Regions from separate parts of the Homo sapiens genome. Here regions 1 and 3 are each linked to region 2. The links come from fine-mapping of genetic effects on gene expression. A gene starts in region 2. Each other region holds a variant in brackets. All regions are shown on one strand. Distances are from middle to middle. Region 1 overlaps USP48 (ubiquitin specific peptidase 48). Region 2 holds the start of RAP1GAP (RAP1 GTPase activating protein). Region 3 overlaps RAP1GAP (RAP1 GTPase activating protein).

What was found. PIP is the estimated chance that this variant, and not a neighbour inherited with it, causes the effect.
Region 1: its variant is fine-mapped to the expression of RAP1GAP in whole blood (INTERVAL, PIP 0.99).
Region 3: its variant is fine-mapped to the expression of RAP1GAP in esophagus mucosa (GTEx, PIP 0.93).

The regions. Positions count from the first base shown.
Region 1 is chr1:21,773,981-21,780,459 of GRCh38, reverse strand. The region is part of intron 1 of USP48 (ubiquitin specific peptidase 48); the gene reads left to right. Among named protein-coding and RNA genes, the nearest start is that of USP48, 5.9 kb to the left of the region's middle. The variant TG/G (reference allele first, on the strand shown) is at 2,487.
Region 2 is chr1:21,666,339-21,672,854 of GRCh38, reverse strand. It overlaps RAP1GAP (RAP1 GTPase activating protein), which reads left to right and starts at 3,498. Exons shown (of 25, transcript NM_002885.4): 1 at 3,498-3,601. RefSeq lists enhancers at 1,579-2,778, 6,297-6,516 and a silencer at 3,427-3,576.
Region 3 is chr1:21,624,790-21,631,151 of GRCh38, reverse strand. RAP1GAP (RAP1 GTPase activating protein) reads left to right here. Exons shown (of 25, transcript NM_002885.4): 3 at 4,755-4,848. Among named protein-coding and RNA genes, the nearest start is that of RAP1GAP, 41 kb to the left of the region's middle. The variant C/T (reference allele first, on the strand shown) is at 4,341.

The DNA.
Region 1 (6,479 bases), 110 kb before region 2:
TCCAGAACTTTTCATTATCCTAAAAGGAAACTGAGCATCTGTTAGTCACTTCCCATTTTCCCCCCTCGCCCAGCCCCTGGCAACTGCTAATCTACTTTCTGTCTCTGGATTTCTCTATTAATATTTCATAGCAATGGAATTATACAGTACGTGGCCATTTGTGTCTGGTTTCACTTAACGTAATGTTTCCAAGGGTTATCCCTGCTGCGCATGTGTCACTACTTTATTCCTTACGGCTGAGTAGTATTCCATTTTATGGATAATACCACATTTTATATATCTATTCATCAGTTGAGGGACATTTTGATTATTTCCACCTTTTGCTTATTTTGAGTAGTACTTCTCTGAACATTTGCATACAAGTTTTGGTCTGAACATCTGATTTCAGTTCTTTACCTGGGAGTGGAATTACTGGGTCATACACAGTCAATTCTGTGTTTAACTTAACCGAACCGCGAAACTTCCACAGTGGTTGTACCGATTTACATTCCCACCAGTGATGTATGAGGGTTCAAATGCTTCATCATCCTCATAAACAGGTACTATTTTCTGTTTTTCTGGTTAGGCCCTCCTACTTGGGTGTGAAGTGATGCATCTTTGTAGTTTTGATTTGCATTTTCCTAGTGACTAATGAGTTCAGCGTCTTTTCATGTGCTCGTTGCCTCTTTTCCTTTTATTGATCAATAATATGCCATCATATCTCTGTATCTACCACATTTTTAATTTGCATTCATCTGCTGATAGACATTTGGGTCATTTCTACTTTTTGGCTATTATAATGTTGCTATGAACATTAGTGTAGTAGTTTTTGTGTGGGCATTTATTTTTATTTCTCTTGGTTATAGAGCAAGAAGTGGGATTGTTGGGTTGTGTGGTAACTTTTAACTTTTTATTATTATTATTATTTTTTTTTTGAGACGGAGTCTCTCTGTGTTGCCCAGGCTGGAGTGCAGTGGCGCCATCTCGGCTCACTGCAACCTCTGCCTCCTAGGTTCAAGCGATTCTTGTGCCTCAGCCTCTGAGTCACTGGGATTACAGACGCCCACCACCACACCCGGCTAATTTTTTGTATTTTTTAGTAGAGACTGGGTTTCGCCAAGTTGGCCAGGCTGGTCTTGAACTCCTGACCTCAGGTGATCCACCTACCTCGGCCTCCCAAAGTGCTGGGATTACAGGCTTGAGCCACCGCACCCAGCTCTTTTAACTTTTATTTATTTATTTATTTTTAATGAGGTCTCACTCTGTAACACAGACTGTATTGCAGTGCAATCATGGCTCACTGCAGCCTTGAACTCCTGGGCTCAAGCAATCCTCCCGCCTCAGCCTCCTGCCACTACAGGCACATGCCACAACACGAGGCTAATTAAACAAAATTTTTTTGCTGGGCGTGGTGGCTCACGCCTGTAACCTCAGCACTGTGGGAGGCCAAGGCTGGCGGATCACGAGGTCAGGAGATCGAGACCATCCTGGCTAACGTGGTGAAACTCCGTCTCTACTAAAAATACAAAAAATTAGCCGGGCATGGTGGCGGATGCCTGTAGTCCCAGCTACTCGGGAGGCTGGGGCAGGAGAATGGCATAAACCCGGGAGGCAAAGGCAGGAGAATGGCACGAACCCGGGAGGCAGAGCTTGCAGTGAGCTGAGATACGCCACTGCACTCCAGCCTGGGTGACAGAACGAGACTCCGTCTCCAAAAAAAAAAAAAAATTTGTGGAAATGGAGTCCCACTTTGGTGCCCAAGCTGGTCTTGAACTCCTTGCTTCAAGTGATCCTCCTGCCTTGGCCCCCTGAAATGCTTGGATTGCATGAATGAAACTGTTCATGGCCTTTTTTTGGCTTTTTTTTTTTTTTTTTTTTTAAGATGAGGGTCTTGCTATGTTGTGTAGGCTGTCCTTGAACTCCTGGGCTCAATCAATACTCCTGCCCCAGCTTCCCTGGTAGCTGGGACTGTAGGCACGAACCACCATGTCTGTGTTTAATATTTTGAGGAATTGTCAGGTTACTTTCCAGAGTGGCTGCGCTATTTTACATATTCACAAGCAGTATATGAGGATTCCAATTGCTCTATGTCCCTATACTTGTTACTGCCTTTTTTCTTTTAGCCATCCTAGTGGGTGCGAAGTGGTGTCTTATGTTTTGATTTGTGTTTCATTGATGACTAATCACGTTAAACATCTTTTTGTGTACTTATTGGCCATTCATATATCTTTTTTGAGAAATGTCTGTTTAAATCCTTTGCGTGCTTTTAAATTGAGTTGCCTTTTGTTATTGAGTTGTGATCTTTTTTTGGTCTTGTTTTTGTTTTGTTTTTTTTTTTCAGACGGAGTCTCACTCTGTCACCCAGGCTGGAGTGCAGTGATGCCATCTCGGCTCACTGTAACCTCCGCCTCCCAGGTTCAAGCGATTCTCCTGCCTCAGCCTCCCGAGTAGCTGGGACTACAGGCGCACACCGCCACGCCTAGCTAATTTTTTTTTTTTTTTTTTTT[TG/G]GTATATTTAGTAGAGACGGGGTTTCACTATGCTGGCCAGGCTGGTCTCAAACTCCTGACCTTGTGATACGCCCACCTCAGCCTCCCAAAGTGCTAGGATTACAGGCGTGAGCCACTGCATCCAGCCAAGTTGTGTTCTTTATATATACTGCATATAAGTCCCTTATTAAATATATGATTTGCAAATATTTTTTCTAATTTCTATGGCTTTTAATTTTATTGGTGGTATCATTTTCAGTACAAAAGCTTTTCATGTTGATGTAGTCCAATTTCTTCTTCTTCTCCGCCTTCTTATTCTTATCAGTGAAGCAGGGTTCTTGCTTTGTTGCCCAACCTGGAGTGCAGTGGTGTGATTGTAGCTCACTGTAGCCTTAAACTCCTGGTCTCAAGTGATCTTTTTGCCTCAACATCCCCAGTAGGTACAACTGCAAGTTGTACCACCACACCCAGCTAATTTTTTTGGTATTTTTTGTAGAGTTGGGGTCTTACTATGTTACCCAGGCTGACCTTGAACCTTTAGCCTCAAGCAGTCCTGCTTCAGCTTCCCAGAGTACTGGGATTACAGGTGTGAACCACCTGGCCCCAACATTGTACTATTTTTTTTTTGACGCTTTTGGTCTTGTAAGAAGCCACACCTCACCCAAGGTTTGAGCAGTTTTAATTAATGAATTAGTTAATTTTATGAGACAAGGTCTGGCTCTGTTGCCCAGGCTGGAGTACAGTGGTGCAATCTTGGCTCAATGCAACCTCTGCCTCCCAGGGGCTCAAGCCATCCTCCTACTTCAGCATCCCGAGTAGCTGTGACTACAAGCATGCTCCACCACACTCGGCTAATTTTTGGTGTTTTGTTTTTTTTTTTCAGATGGAGTCTGGCTCTGTTGTCCAGGCTGAGTGTAGTGGCGCAATCTTGGCTCACTGCAACCTCCGCCTCCCATGTTCAAGCGATTCTCCTGCCTCAGCCTCCTGAGTAGCTGGGATTACAGGCATGCACCACCACACCTGGCTAATTTTTTTTTTTTTTCTTTGAGACAGAGTTTCACTCTTGTTGCCCAGGCTGGAGTGCAGCGGCACAAACTCGGCTCACTGCAGCCTCCGCCTCCCAGGTTCAAGCAGTTCTCCTACCTCAGCCTCCCGAGTAGCTGGCATTGCAGGCACCACGCCCGGCTAATTTTTGTATTTTTAGTAGAGATGGGGTTTTGCCATATTGGCCAGGCTGGTCTCGAACTCCTGACCTCAAGTGATCCCCCCGCCTTGGCCTCCCAAAGTGCTGGGATTACAGGCGTGAGCCACTGTGCCTGGCCCTGTCAGCTTTTATTTAGATATCCAAAAAGCTCTCTTTCTACTCACTTTCTTCTTTTTTTTTTTTTTTTTTTTTTTTTTGAGACAAGACACTATTCACTTTCTCCTTTTTTATAGAGACAGAGTCTTGTCACATTGCCCAGGCTGGTCTCAAACTCCTGGGCTCTAGCAGTCCTCCCTCCTCAGCCTCCTAAATTGCTGGGATTCCAGACATGAGCCTTTCTCCTTTTGTTTATTTCTTCTCTTTGCAAGAAGAGACTAAATAAATAAATAGTATCACCAATATGTATTTTTCATACTTTATGCAACAATTTGTTATGAGATACCAAAGCTGAAGAATGAGGTGTTTGACCATATTCAAAGACCACATGTGTCAGGACTGTTTACATTTCTGAAAGTACTTAGGGCAATCACAGGATGAAAGCAGTGTGTACTAAATCCTCTGTCCACAGAATTCTGCAAATATTATGTGTCTTGAGGGCAGACTTGTTTGTTAACAGTGAGGTTGGTGGTCAAGTAAGTTCCTGGAAGTAAAATTGTTGGGTAAGGGATGTGTGTTTTTCATATTGATCCATGTTGCTAAATTGCCCCTCAGAATGAGGGTTTCTCTTTACATTTCCCTGTCAATGTGTAAGAGTATCTTACATATACATCATACCCTCACCAACATAATGTGTTAGTCACACTTTCTGATCTAAGTGCAAAGGGTTTCATATGTTTAATATGTATTTATTTTGTTACAATTTCTTTTTGTTACAGTTAATCTTTTGATGTGAAATTTGTTTTGTTTTGTTTTTGAGACGGGGTCTTACTATGTTGCTTAGGCTGGTCTCAAACTCCTGGGCTCAAGGGATCTTCCTTCCTCAGCTTCCTGAATAGCTGGGATTACAAGTGCATGTCACCATGCCCAGCCTTGATATGAATTTTCAAAGGCTGGATTTACTTATGCTTCCAGCCGTGTATAGGGAGTACAATGTCTGTTTTGTTCTCATTAGGGAAACATCATATGACTATTACTAAATTAAAACATTACAGAAATGTGTGAAGCACTCTAGAAAGCCAGTGTCATGCCACCTTACTTCAGTGGCTTTGTAGCTCTAGTCCCAAAACCCTAATGAGGGCCACGCACGGTGGCTTACGCCTGTAGTCCCAACACTTTGTTAGGCCGAGGTGGGAGGATTACTTGAGGTCAGGAGTTTGAGACCAGTCTGGTCAACATGGCAAAAACCCATTTCTACTAAATTAGCCGGGCATGGTGGCGGCATACACCTGTAATTCCAGCTACTCAGGAGGCTGAGGCGCGAGAATTGCTTGAACCCAGGAGGTGTAGGTTGCAGTGAGCCAAGATTGAGCCACTGCACGCCAACCTGGGTGACAGAGTGAGACTCTGTCTCAATAAAAACCAACCAACCAAACAAAATAACCCTAACGAGGACCCATAGTTCCAGCTACACTGGAGACTGAGGTGGGAGGATGGCTTAAGCTTGGGAGGTGGAGGTTGCAGTGAGCCAAGACCATGCCACCGCACTCCAGCTTGGGCGATAGAGCAAGACCCTGTCTCAAAGGAAAAAGAACAAAGGGGAGTCACAATACATACTTTGTTGCAACTTGTTTCTATTCATGCATGTAGAGCTGCCTTATTTATTTATTTATTTATTTATTTATTTATTTATTTATTTATTTTTGAGAGAGTCTAGCTTTGTTGCCCAGGCTGGAGTGCAGTGCGTGAATTTGGCTCACTGCAACCTCCGCCTCCCAAGGTTCAAGTGATTCTTGGGCCTCAGCCTCCGGAGTAGCTGGGACAACAGGCATGGGCCACCATGCTTGGCTAATTTTTGTAGTTTAGTGGAGACGGGGTTTCACCATGTTGGCCAGGCTGGTCTCAAACTCCTAACTTCAGGTGATCTGCCCACCTCAGCCTCCCGAAGTGTTGAGATTACAGGTGTGAGCCACCGCACCTGGCTATTCTTTTTTCGTTTGTTTGTTTTGAGACAGAATCTTGCTCTGTTGCCAGGCTGGAGTACAGTGGTGCAATCTCGTCTCACTGCAACCTCTGCCTCCCGGGTTCAAGCAATTCTCCTGCCTCAGCCTCCTGAGTAGCTGGGACTACAGGGGCGCCCCACCACACCCGGCTAATTTTTGTATTTTTAGTAGAGATATGGTTTCACTGTGTTGGCTAGGATGGTCTCGATCTCCTGACCTCGCGATCTGCCCACCTTGGCCTCCCAAAGTGCTGGGATTACAGGCATGAGCCACTGCGACCGGTCCTATTCTTTCTTAAAAAATATTCTTATGTATGTTTATGATATATAACATAGCATACATACAGATAGTAAAATGGTAACTGTAATGAAGCAGATTGACATCTGTTATCTCACAGTTACAAATTTTGTGTGTGGCAAGAGAAGCTAAAATCTCATTTAGCAGGAGCCCCAAATACATACCTGCCTTATTATTATTATTATTATTATTATTATTATTATTATTATTATTTTGAGACGGAGTCTCGCTCTGTCACCCAGGCTGGAGTGCAGTGGCGTTATCTGCTCTCACTGCAACCTCCACCTTTTGGGTTCAAGTGATTCTCCTGCCTCAGCCTCCCGAGTAGCTGGGATTACAGGCGCATGCCACCATACCCACCTAATTATTGTATTTTTAGTAGAGCCACCACACCCAGCCAGTTACATAGTTTT
Region 2 (6,516 bases):
GTACTGTCCCTACCTTCAGGCTTTTCTTCTTTGTCCTCAAAACAGGGACTTCCTAACTATTCATGATCCAAAGTCCTCTAACCCCAGGGGTAGTCTCTGTCATGTCTGCTGCACCAGGTTGGCAGCCTCCCACCCAGACGGGGGCCGCTGGCCCTTCCCTGATGCGTGTGCCCTGGCGCCGACTGCCACTCTTCATCCTGCCTTGCTGTGGTTAGAGTGGAACTGTCCTCTGCTCCAAGCCGCCCCTGAAGCCCACCCTCCTTGCCGGCCTTTCCTAGACCTTACCTGTGGCTCTGTGGACAGCACACCTTGAGGACTTGCTGCTTTGGGGTTTTCTTCCCCTACTTGCTCTGGTGGGCAGTTCCTATCTCAGTTTTTCTCCCATTTGATCTGACTGGGAAGGAGTGGGCGGGCAGAGATGGGGAGTTATTTCCAAGAGGCATCATTCCCATTTTAGGACTGTTCCCCCCTCCCTCACCTGCAGTCTCATGCATTATTTGGAGTTTACCGTGGTGCCACCCATGTTTTCGTTCTCCAGCCTTTTTGGATGCCAGATTTTTAAAGCCAGCTTTCATTTCTCAGTGATAGGGAGCACAGAGATGGTGGCTGGGTCGCAATGTATTAAGTGTCTGAGACAAGGCTTGTGCCCAGAGGCAGCCATGCGTGAGTGGTCAGTCCTGAGTGGTTTGGATTGAAATAGGACAGGGAAAGCAAAGCTCCGGGGCCTTTGTCCAATCTTCCCCCTCAGTAGCTAGGCTGCATGCCAAGCTCTGTGCCCAGCCCCCTACGGCACGTGCTGCCTCCTCGCCAGGGGCCCTGACAGTCTCAGAATGGTGCCCCCCAGGACACATGGGAGATTATAAGCCTCTTGCATTGAGGGAGGTTTTCTGTAAAGGGGAAAATGCTGTAATTGAAAAGCTCCTTGATTATAAAGAAGAAATAGAGACGCCTGGCATAGAAGAGACTTCGTTCTTTGGTCTGCTCAGCCAGGGTCGGGGACATTCAGTACCCCCAGGCTAATAGGCTCTTGAGCTCTTAAGGACCTTGGAGTCTGCAGGTCCAGACTCCAGAAGGTTATGGGACCATGAAGAGGTCACACAGCTGTACCCCTTGGCTTGCTGCATTTCTGCATCTCCAGTGCCTCCATCTGCCCCCTCCCTCCAGCTCAGGTGGGACACCTTTGTCTCCACTCAGCACTCTGGGATGTACCATCAGCAATGCCTGGCCAGAATTGAGGGTCTCTGTCTTAAAGCGTGGAGGAGAAAGGGGCCCTTTTGGAACAGGAGTTAGGGAAGCAAGAAGCATGAAGATTGTGCTCAGAATTGAATTCAGGGAGCAATGCATAAAAAAGCGAGAGGATGGGTAGAGAGATGGTGCTTAAAAGGATCCTGGAATCCATGTACTTCTGAGATCTGTGAGCCCCGCCCCTGCTGAAGATGAGCCAGCCCCACCCAGTACATGCTGCCCTTGAAGGTCTATAGGCATTCTGCTGGCATTTCCTAAGTAGGATGTATTTGACCAAGCATCTCCCAGGACCAGAGCCCTGCAGGACATACCTGTCTAGGGCAGTTGCTATGCCCCACAGTCCCTTCACCATCATCCCCAGAAGCGCCTCGGCCAGCCTCATTCAACTTCTTGCCTTTTTATTACAGTGTTTGAGCCAACTATATAGTCCTGGTGTATTCCTAGGCAGGAGATCAAAGGGCCCCCCGGGTTGGGTGGTCCATGAGTGAGCATGTGATACCGCAGGAGTCTTCCTCCTGCCCTGACAACTTGCCTTGTACTACCAGTGCTGCTCAGGATGTCTGCAGCCACGAAGCTTCATTATAAATGCAGGAGCTCAGGCTCCAGGCCCACTGAATCTGAATCTGAGTCTACAGACCGCTCCTGCACTCTTAGAAGTTTGAGAAACCCCCCTGGGCTGGGGTCTCTTTCCCATATACAGCTAGGGAAGCTTGCTGGAGGGAGGACTGAAAAGAACAAGTGCCTGATCTACCTTCCCCTCTGCCCTTTCACAGGTGGGTGGATGCGTGGGAAGAGGGTGGGGCATTTCCTGCTATTCCCCCTTATTCACCTTTTCTCCACGGGGATTAGAGTCTTGACCGGAAAACATGGCTCTGGTCCCCAGCCCCTATGGGACTGAAAACCCGGAGGCTTGCATGTCTCAGATCCTCCAGAGGCTGATGTAAGAGTTGCTGAAGACCTCGGATCTTTCCTTTTGTGAAATGCAGCCCATGTGGCCGGGAAAATAGTGGGAGCTGGAAGTAACAGTTGTGGTTTTAAGCACACAGTAGATGCTCAAGAAATATATTGAGTACATGTCTTGGACTTTCCCCTCCCTAAATATTATCTGTCAAGTGGGCCTATTGGACTTGTTGACCTTGGAGGGCCCTGTCGGCTTGACCCACCAATTCGAAATGGTTGAGAAAGAGGTCTGTCTTTGTACCTTTTGCAGCCTGTTTTCCCAGTTCTTAGAACATTGGGGTGAGATCCAGAGATTTCAGAGATCCCCCTGGAACACGAGTGTTCTGTGACGAGTTCATGACCTTGGAGCCACCAACCATACCCCTCACCCGTTGTCCCCAGTTCTGGCCTTGCCGACCCACTGCGTGTTTCTTTGCTTCATGTGGGCTGTTCCCCGGGGAGGGAGCTCAGTGGAGAACAGAAAGAGGTGTGGGTGAGGGCTCCCCCTTGGTGGGGAGTGGGGCACAGGAGCCTCAGGCTCTGTTGACCATCAAAGAAGGGACTCGAGTGGGCAGGCCGCTCACTTGCTGTGGACCTTGGGCAAGTCTCTAACTCTCCCTGGGCCTTGGAAGTCAGGCCGAGGTGATCTCTGCCGCCCCCTCCCTGCCTGGGTTTTCACTCTTGTTCTGATCCCACTCTCTTCCGGGTGCCTCCCTTCCACTTCTCCGTAGCCTGTGGCTCCCCTCCCCACACCCGCCCTGGGCCCGGGTTAGGCTGGGGCGGGGGCGAGCTGCCCAGTCCAGAGACAAAGTCCAAGAGCCGCGAATGGGCTGGCGAGGGTCAACCGCGTGGCCTCTGCCAGGAAGCGCGCCGAGCGCCCGGGTGAGGAGGGCGTCAGCCAGGGCACAGCAGCTTTCTCGCCCAGCGAAGCCTGTGCGCCTTCCTCCCGCGCCTGCAGACAAGCGGAGCCCATGGGGGCCGTGGGCCCCACCTATCCCGACGTCTCCACTTGATCCAGAAGTTGTCCCAGTCCCCTTGGAGCATGAGCTGTTGCCTGGACAGCTGGGCTGTCGCCCAGGTTCTGCCACTGTCTAGCTGTGTAACCTTGAGCCAGTCCCTGCCCCTCTCTGGTCCTCAGTTTCCCCACCTGTAAAATGGGGGCACCGAGAACCCTCCTCCAGGACCTGCGGCGGGGCGGGGCGGCAGGGCGGGGGCCTCCCCGCCGCTCCCGCGCCCGCGGCTTGGGCTCCGCAGTGAGTGGGGAGCGGCGCCGGGGAAGGAGCGCTCCGCGGTCATGTGACGTCCCCCTCCCCGAACTGCGGCGGCGGCGAGCGCCGGCCGCATCTGAGCAGAGCTGCAGCGGCGGCCGCGGGCACCAGAGTGCCGAGCCCAGGACGCCCCCGGCCCAGGCCCTTGGGTGAGTGCGCCCCGCCAGGGCTGCGGCCCTGGAAAGGGGAAGGGGACAGAGGTGTCCAGACTCCCGTCGGCTCGCAGCGAAGACCCCGCGCGGGCGGGCGGGGACGGAGGGTGGGGGCGAACGCGTGGGGGACCCGGGTCTCCAGGGGCGAGGGGTGGGCGCAGCTGGGCTCGCGCAGCCCGGTCTTGACAGCAGCTGGAGAAGTGGGGGGAGGCCTGGACTGAGCCGGCTGAACCCCCAGCCTGTTGGACTTGGTCCAGGCCGCGGCCAGGGGGCTTTGGTCCCACCCCCCTGGGTGGGTGGGGAGTCCAGTTTTCCGCCCACCTCGAGGTGGGGGCGCCTGGGGTTTAGAGGAGGGACTGTGGGAAGTGGGCGCGTTTCCTCCATCCCTGGGGAGGGGCCCAAGCCCTAGCGCCCCCCAGAGGGTGGCGCTCCTGTCCTCAGAGGAGGGAAGTGGGGGCCTCAGATCAAGGACCCTGAGCGGGGAGGGCGGTGATGTCCTTGCATCCCCAGAGACAGGACGCATTCCCCTGTCCCTGACCCCCGCGGCAGAGCGGGGCACACGCGTCACGAAGTTGGGCGCCCCCTCGTCGCCTCCCCTGGCTCGGCAGGATCTGAGGACTCGGTGGGAATTCACGGGGCGGTTTCCGTGCCCTGCAGGGTTTGGTGCCAGCTGCGGGGCGCCTGGGCTTGGGGAAGAAACCTTGTGTACGCACACCTGCACACACACACAGTCTCCGGAGGTGAGCGGCCCCCTCCCTACCATAACAGACCCCAGCCTGTGCATGCCCTCGGAGTCCTTGTTGGGGTCATAGCACAGGCCCGGTGGTGGGGTCAGGAAGAACATCCACTGTTCTCAGGGCTCATTGGCCTCTGTCCCCGGGCTCCATTCCCCTCCCTGCCAAGTCAGAGGTCAGGCCCCTGGGGCGGCAGGCAGGAAGGACACTGAGGGAAGGGGCACTGAGGCAGGAGGGGCACTGAGGGAAGCTGGCCAGGTGGAAGTAGGAGAGAAAGGCAATGGGGGTGAGATGGTACCACTTCCTCCCCATATGAGGCTCTCAGGAGGCTCCTGGCCCCCCCTGCACAGGTAGTGGTCCCTCCTTCCTGAGGGTGTTTGGGGGAAAACGCTATGGTTGGGGCACTGGGGAAGGTTGCCTCGCAGATGAAACAGAACATTGGCCAAAGGTGTCCCTGAATGGGCTTCTGGACTGGCACAGGGCCCTGAGGGCTGTGGCTGAGTGGGGAGGCAGTGATCAGGTCCAGCTGGCCATGGGGGCCCCCCATTCCCTTCTCCATGACCTCAGCCTCACTCTGAGAGCCCCCAGCAGCTGGAAGGTCTGGTAAGGGGTGCGTGTTCCTTGATGGCCTTGGGAAGGGTTCCAGGGTAATGATTAATCCTCAGGTGGCACGAGCAATTTCCCCCTTCACAGCAATATTTCAGGGCAGGCGCTGAAGCCTCCATTGCACAGGTGAGGAAACTGAGGCTCGGAGAGGCTAAATGAACTGCCTGAGGTCACCTAGTCACCTTCAGCAAGGTCTAGAATCGTGGTACTCTGACTCTTGATGGGAGAAGATCTCCACAGCGGTGGAGAGGAGGAAGGGTGAACGCCGTGGTGGAGTGGTCCATGTGGACCTGCTCCCCTTTGCTGCCAGGAGGTGAGGGTGCCTGTGGCTGGAAGCTGGGTCAGGTTGAGGAGAGGGTCCAGAGTCCTAGGCTTGCCTTGCCACCCCTTCCCATGGAGGGAGGGTTGTCCCGTGGAGCACCATAATGGTGCTTTCACCCTGGGACCTTCCCAGCTTGCTTGGGCAAAGCCCTCTCCTCTTCTCTTCTTCCCAAGGTGCCTGCCTGGCAGGGGTCTCAGGAGGCCCCTCTCCTGGCTCTAACTACCTTCCACCCTTAGGAGACAAGAAGGATTCTTCCTTTGGCCTCTTGGAGGGCAGCAGGGAGAGAGGTCTCTGCCACTTAGGCCTCAGGCTCCCACAGCAGGGCCTCCACCTCCCTCTCACCTGGCCCTGCCCCTGCCCTGCTGTCAAATTCTGGGGCCAAGAGGCCCTTTGAGGACTCCTCGGGCAGATCTGTCCTCCATGCTGCCATCTGTCTACGGAGGCCTTTGTCCTGGCTGTCAGAGGCTGCTGAGCAGCCGCATGTGCTGTGCAAACAACCGAGACCTGAGCACGGCCAGACACAAACGCAAATACAGTTAGACTGACAGATACCCTGAGACCCAGACACAGGAACACACGGGCACACCCAGGCCAAGACCCCTGCCCCCGACTCTGCCTGACACACAAGCACTGAGAGTCACACCATCCAGATGCTGGCACGTGTGTACACACAGAGAGACGGAGGTTGTCAGCAAGGAGAAGAGCCTTTTCAGAAGCCCTCGTCTTCTGTCGTCTGCCTCCATTATCTCCTCCAGGGTGCACACATGGTACACGCGCATGCAGGAAGAACACGAGGATGCCCTACGCCCTTAAAAATGAACCTGGCAGACACGCACATGCACCCACCCACACCCAGGCCATCATGGGTGCACACACGCATGAATTACATCAGCTTCCTGCGTGTGGGATGTTAATGCTTCATCACCCGGGGAGGGGAGTGGAGGCCCCCGACCGTCCCCAGCAAAGCCTCCCCTTCCTCCCTCTTTTCTGATTCATGTGGACCCAGCTTGACTGGCCCCAAGAATCCTGGGAAACTGCCTGGTGCTTCCCACTCAGTGGACCCTCCTCTCCTGCCTCCCCTCTGTGTACATACCCAGCGGGTTGCCACGGGAGCCTCTCCCCAGGCTGCTCCTTTGCTGTCTCTGAAGGTGTTGTTCTGCAGGTCCTTCCCAAGACAGGACAGGACCCAGTGCAGGCTCCAAGCGGCTCTGGGGTTCCCTTTCCTTTCCACTTTTGCTAGAGGCATTACC
Region 3 (6,362 bases), 42 kb after region 2:
GACATCCATGATGTGAACTGAATGGAGAAGACCAGGAGGAGACCAGGGTGGGATAGGAGAGAGAAGGGGAGGGACAGAGAGGTTCGGGTTCGTGAAGTGGGAGGAAACGACCACATTGTGGGTGGTCTGCAGAGGCCAGAGGAAGAAGGGGATTGGAGGGGTGCTGGGAAAGGTGGGGCAGAGATGGGCGAGCTGGTGAGGAAGGCTGAGCAGGAAAGGACGTGAAGCAGAGAAGGGCAGAGGGCTGGTGAGGAGGGAAGAGGCTTTCATTCATTGCTTCAAAAGTATTTATTGGGGCCAGGTGCAGTGGCTTATGCCTGTAATCCTAGTGCTTTGGGAGGCCAAGGTGGGAGGCTTATTTGAGGCCAGGAGTTCCAGACCAGCCTGGGCAACACAGCAAGACACCCATCTCAACAACAACAACAAAAAATTTATTTTTAATTAGCCGAGCACACACCTGTAGTCCCAGCTACTAGGAGGCCGAGGGGGAAGGATCACTTGAGCCCAGCAGTTCAAGGCTGCAGTGAGCCATGATCATGCCACTGCACTCCAGCTTGGGTGACAGAGCAAGACCCCATTTCTTAACAACAACAAAAGGTCAGGGGCAGTGGTTCATTCCTGTGATCGCAGCACTTTGGGAGGCTGAGGTGGGAGGATCTCTTGAGCCCGGAAGTTCCAGACCAGCCTGGGTAACATAGGGAGACCTCATCTCTACTAAAATTAGCTGGGCATGGTGGTGCCTGTAGTCCCAGCAACTTGGGAGGCTGAGGAGGGAGGATGGCTTGAGCCTAGGAGTTTAAGGCTGCAGTGAGCTTTGATCACGCCACTGCACACCAGCCTGGGCAGCAAGAGCAAGATCCTGTCTCAAAAAACAAAAAAAAAAAAGGGAAAAAGAAAAAAGTATTTATTGAGCAACTACTATTTACTAAGTGTCAGTGGTATAGTGTTAAGGGCACTGCAACCAGATGTTGGGGGAGGTCAAATCTTCAGACTTTCATTTACTGTGTGTGACCTTGGACAAGTTACTTAACCTCTCTGTGTCTTAGTTCCCTCCTTTGAAAAATGCAAATTAAATGAGTTAATACAATAAAGTAGAGCAGAGCCTGCACATAGTAAGCTCTGTATCAGCTGTGTCGGCCGTTGCTGTTGTTACTATTACCTTTCCGACTTGACTTGAGGTGCTGGATCGTGTTCCTGAGCTGGAAGTCGTAAGGCTCTGTGGGGAGGTCCACAGGATTGGACGTACATGTTATAAAGTTCAGATCTTGGGCTCTGAAGTCAACAAACCTGTGTCCAAATGCCTGGCCTGCCTCATTGCCTGTGTGAGCTTGGGCAAGTTAACGCACCTTTCTGAGCTTCGTGTGGAAAGCAGGAGGTTTCTGAACATCTGCCTCTTTGGGGAACTGTGAGGATTAAATTAGATTATGCAAGACGCCCGGCAGGACGTGGCTTTGTCATTCCTGTCCCTCTTCTACCCCTTCAGGTCTGGGGATGGATGGACAGGCAGTGCCCAGAGCCTCCAGTTTCCTTCTCTGTCCCCATCCTGGAGCCCCTCCCTTCCCCTGCCCCTTACGGCCTCAGCAGTGGCTTTTTAGGTGGAGTTGCCTTCGGGGGACAGGACTGTGGCCAGCCAGGAACTGGAGAGCCAAGGGCCCTGGGATGGGGTCCCAGGTGCAAGCCAGAGCACCCTGGCCTTCAGAGGCCGCTCTGGTTCTGCACCCACATGAGCAATCCTGAGTGAAATGGACACCTACACATGGGGAGACTGAGGCAGAGAGGGTTCTGGAAGGGGGTTTGTCAGGGACTGCTGCATGGCTATCATATGAGCCTAGGGGAAGACAGAAGGGCACCGCTGGACTAGCCTGATCACAAGCAACAGCCGCCACTGGGCAGCCACGGCCGCACCCAGCACTCCAGCTTTACCGGGCTTCTACCCCAGGACTTCCTGACCCCCAGGCAGCCTCTGCCCTCCACCCCACTGCAGGATCCCTACTTCCTCTAGGGCATGTACTTTAAATTCCAGCTCCATCCCCCATTCGCTAGGGGAAGTGGCTTCACCTCTCTGAGCTTCAGCTTCTCCATCTGTGAAAATGGAGAGAAATAACACCAACCTTCCTGCACAGTAGTTGGGGGAGAGTATATGCTTGACGCAGTCCCAGTCACATAGTAGGTCTCACTAAAGAGTCCCCATGGGAGCCTCAGTGGAATTGCCTGGAAGCCACCCTCCCTCCCTTCCTCCCTTCCCCCCTCCTTTTTTTTTTTCTGAGGTGGAGTCTCCCTCTGGAGCCCAGGCTGGAGTGCAGTGGTGTGATCTCAGCTCACTGCAAACTCTGCCTCCCAGGTTCAAGCAATTCTCCTGCCTCAGCCTCCCAAGTAGCTGGGGTTATAGGTGCCCACCACTGTGCCCAGCTAATTTTTGTATTTTTTTTATTTGAGATGGAGTCTCACTCTGTCGCCAGGCTGGAGTGCAGTGGCGCAATTTCAGCTCACTGCAACCTCCGCCTCCCGGGTTCAAGCGATTCTCCTGCCTCAGCCTCCCAAGTAGCTGGGACTATAGGCGTGCACCACCATGCCCAGTTAATTTTTGCATTTTTAGTAGAGACGGGGTTTCACCATGTTGGCCAGGATGTTCTCGGGATCTCTTGACCTCATGATCTGCCCACCTCGGCCTCCCAAAGTGCTGGGATTACAGGTGTGAGCCACCACGCCCAGCCTGTATTTTTTTTTTTTTTTTTTTTTTTTTTTTTTTTTAGTAGAGATGGGGTTTCACCATATTGGCCATGGTTGGCCAGGCTGGTCTTGAACTGCTGACCTCAGGTGATCTGCCCGCCTTGGCCTCCCAAAGTGCTGGGATTACAGGTGTGAGCCATCACGCCCAGCCTGCCGGTAACTATTTCTATGGACCTCTCTTTAGTCCCCACCCTCCCACTCCAGACTCTCCCCATGTCAGTGTACCCTGCAATATGCAGGAACCTGTGCGTAGGGATGTTCCTTTGCTCACAACCCTTCAGTGACTCCCAACCTTCATTCATTCATTCAGTCATTCAACAAATAGTGAAACTTGGGGAGCCAGAGTTTACCATGAACAAATGATGTGAAAGTTTTCATTGAGTGAATTCCCATGAGCTGCCCAGGCTCTGCGATGAATGTTTTTGGAAACTGAGGCTGAGAGAGGCTGTGTCACTAACCCAAGCTCACCTAGCCAGTCAGTGTCTGAGACTATCTCCCCCACACTGATGCCACAGGCTTGAAATGCCACTGCCACCATATCTGTCCTTTTGGGTCAAGCATTGCCCAGCGCAGACCCCTCTTGTAAGATGCCATCACTCCTGGGAGGTGGAGAGGCCTCCAGTGCATAAGTGGGGCTGTGGATGGTTCCTCCGGGCCATTTCTCCTGCTGGAGTAGCTGGGCTGAGTGGAATTAGAAGGGAGGCTCAGACTGGGCGCAGTGGCTCACACCTATAATCTCAGCACTTTGGGAGGCTGAGGCGGGCAGATCACCTGAGGTCGGGAGTTCGAGACCAGCCTGACCAACATGGAGAAACCCCGTCTCTACTAAAAATACAAAATTAGCCAGGCATGGTGGCGCATGCCTGCAATCCTAGCTATTCAGGAGGCTGAGGCAGGAGAATCGCTCGAACTCGGGAGACAGAGGTTGCAGTGAGCCGAGATCAAGCCATTTGCACGCCAGCCTGGGGAATAAGAGCGAAACTCTGTCATAAAAAAAAAAAAAAAAAAAAAAGAAGAAGGGAGGCTCACAGCTTTCTCAGTCTTCTTCCTGGGCCAGACTTTTTCGGGTCCTTCCCCTCTTGGGGTGTGGCAGCCCCGGCTCTGCCTGACTCAAGCCTGCTGTAGGCCACCAGCGATCATCTGAGTCACCCTCGAGGGACCAGCCTCTCTTGATGGGACCTGAGCAGAGGTGCAGCCACGTCAGGGTGGCCCTAGGCAGCAGCGGAAGCCAGGCCTGCTTGCCCAGCCCCAGGATCCCGGGAACCACTGGGCATTTCCTCTCCCTGCCCCAGAGGTGGCCTCGGCAGGCTTTTTAGGGTGATAGGAGCTGACTTCACCCTCGCCAGACCTGCTTTCTTTCCTCAGGGAAGGGTGTGGTGTGGGCAGAGAGTCCGGGCTTAGACTCAGGCAGGTCTCATGCAGATGCTAGCTTTGCTGCCGGCCAGCCGTGTGACCTCTGTGCACAGCTGGGTCCTGTCTGTAAAGTGGGAATACCAGTGTGGTGAGGAGGCCATGCCCTCGGGCCTAGAACGAGGGCTCAGCACAGGGCCTGGCATGTGGTAGGCCCAATGAGCGTCAGTTATGGTCACGGTCACTGTCATTCGTAATAG[C/T]GGTAGCCCTGGTAGCCCCTCAATGCCAAGGCGGCTACTCCCAGAGGCTCAGGGAGGGGTCCATTGTAGAGGCGGGGGCACCCTGCTTAGTCCAGAAAGCTCACCCTCCACAGCAACCCTCAGTGCCCCTGCCTCAGTCTACTCATCTTCAGAGTAGGTCACTGCTTGGCTGGAGGCCTAATGGAGAGCTTGGGGAGAGACCCTGTCCACGTCTCTGATCTCCGGGGAAGGAGAAGCCTGTGTGGTAGCCCTGCTAATGAAGCCCCTCCTCTCCCTCCTCTTGGGGAACCCATGACCCTCTCCTCCGTGAAGTCTATCCTCCCTCACATCCCCCAGCTCTGAGAGTGACTCTCCCAGAGTTCCCAAATTTCCTGGCTTGGGGCTCTCCCTGACCTCAGACTCTTTCTCTTCCAGGAGGAGCGATGGGCAGAACCAGCACTTCCCTCAGGCACTAGACCTGTCACGAGTGAACTTAGTTCCCTCCTATACTCCTTCACTCTACCCTAAGGTAAGTGTCCCCCTCCATACCTACGGCCCCTGGTCTGCCCCCTACCTCCGACACATGCCCAGGGCTGGGAAAGGCCCAAGAATGACTTTTGGGCAAAGGTAAAATGTTCAGGCAGATGCTGATGGGGTTTAGCTCCTAAGGGGTTGCCACTCCTGAGCCCGGGGTGAGGCTGGTGCAGTCACAAACGTTGAACCTAGGTCTGTAGACTGTGGCAGGGAGGGGCTTAGGGCGAATCTAAGCAAAACAGCTGGGAATAAACCAGCCCCCCAGCTATCTTCATCATCTCCACAATCAACGTCACCATCAGTCTCCTTATCTGTAAACCAGGTGCAATGAGAGGACCCACTTCACAGGGTCATTGTGAAGATTGCTGCAAAGTACAGACAGGGCGGCCCAGGCACAGCATCCGGCACAGAGCAAGAGCCCTGTCAACGAGCCTCTATCATTATCGTTAAAATCAAACGTTTGCCCAGTACCTGCTTCATGCCAAGCCTTGTGCTGGGTGCCAAGCGACCAGAAACCAATCTGATACAGATCCTGCTCTCAAGGAGCCACAGTCCAGTAAAGCAATAGATAACTGAACAATGTATGCAGGACATCAAATAGCAGAAATAACCTCTAATATTTATTGAGACTTACTGTGTACTAAGAGAGTACTTAATGCTTTATTTGCAGTATTTCATCTCATCCTTGGACTATGTGATAGCTACTATAATCAGTCCCATTTTGCAGATGAGAAAATTGAGGCTCAGAGAGGTTCAGTCACTTGCCCGAAGTCACTCAGGTTGGATGTGGTGGGGCCACGACCGGATGCAAGCTGTCTGACCAGAGGGCCTGGTGTTAGGGCCTCTCTGATGCAGGGGTGACAAGCTCTCACTTTTGCAGTACTTTTTGCAGTTTCTAAAGCACACCCACAGACATCATGCCACCTGGTCCTTTTAGTAAACCTTGGGTAGTAGGCATTATCTAGTTGAGGATGCAGGAGATCAGAGAAGTAAAGTGGTCTTCCCAAGGTCACACAGCCAGAAAATAGCAGAGGCAAAATCCACCAGGCTCCTCCCTGAGAGCTCTGGCCTGGAATAAAGGCCACGTACCTTGCCTAGGCTGGGAGGGCAGATGGCCAAGGAATGGTGTCCATATGTGGGGCCACCACCTTCATGGGGGTGCCACGTGGGGCTGCTGGGAGCAGCAGCAGGAGATTCCTGAGACTGACTCCTGTTTTCTCTGTCTGGGCAACAGCCCAAGACTGGGGCATGTGGATCCGGGGCTTGGCAGGAAGGGAGAGACTCAATGGCAGCCCTCACTTGACAGCTGGGTTCATGAATGAAGCTCCCAGTCCCTCTTCCCCTGAGCATCTCAGGAGGAGCCCTGGGTTCTCACCAAGGGCTGTATGCCCTCGGACCACAGCTTCCCCTCCCTGGGCCTCAGTCTTCCCATCAGGAGACGAGAGAGAGAGAGAGCAGCCCATAGCCCTGGGCCCTGCGTGCTAGACAGCCTGGGGTTGGCCTTCTCGG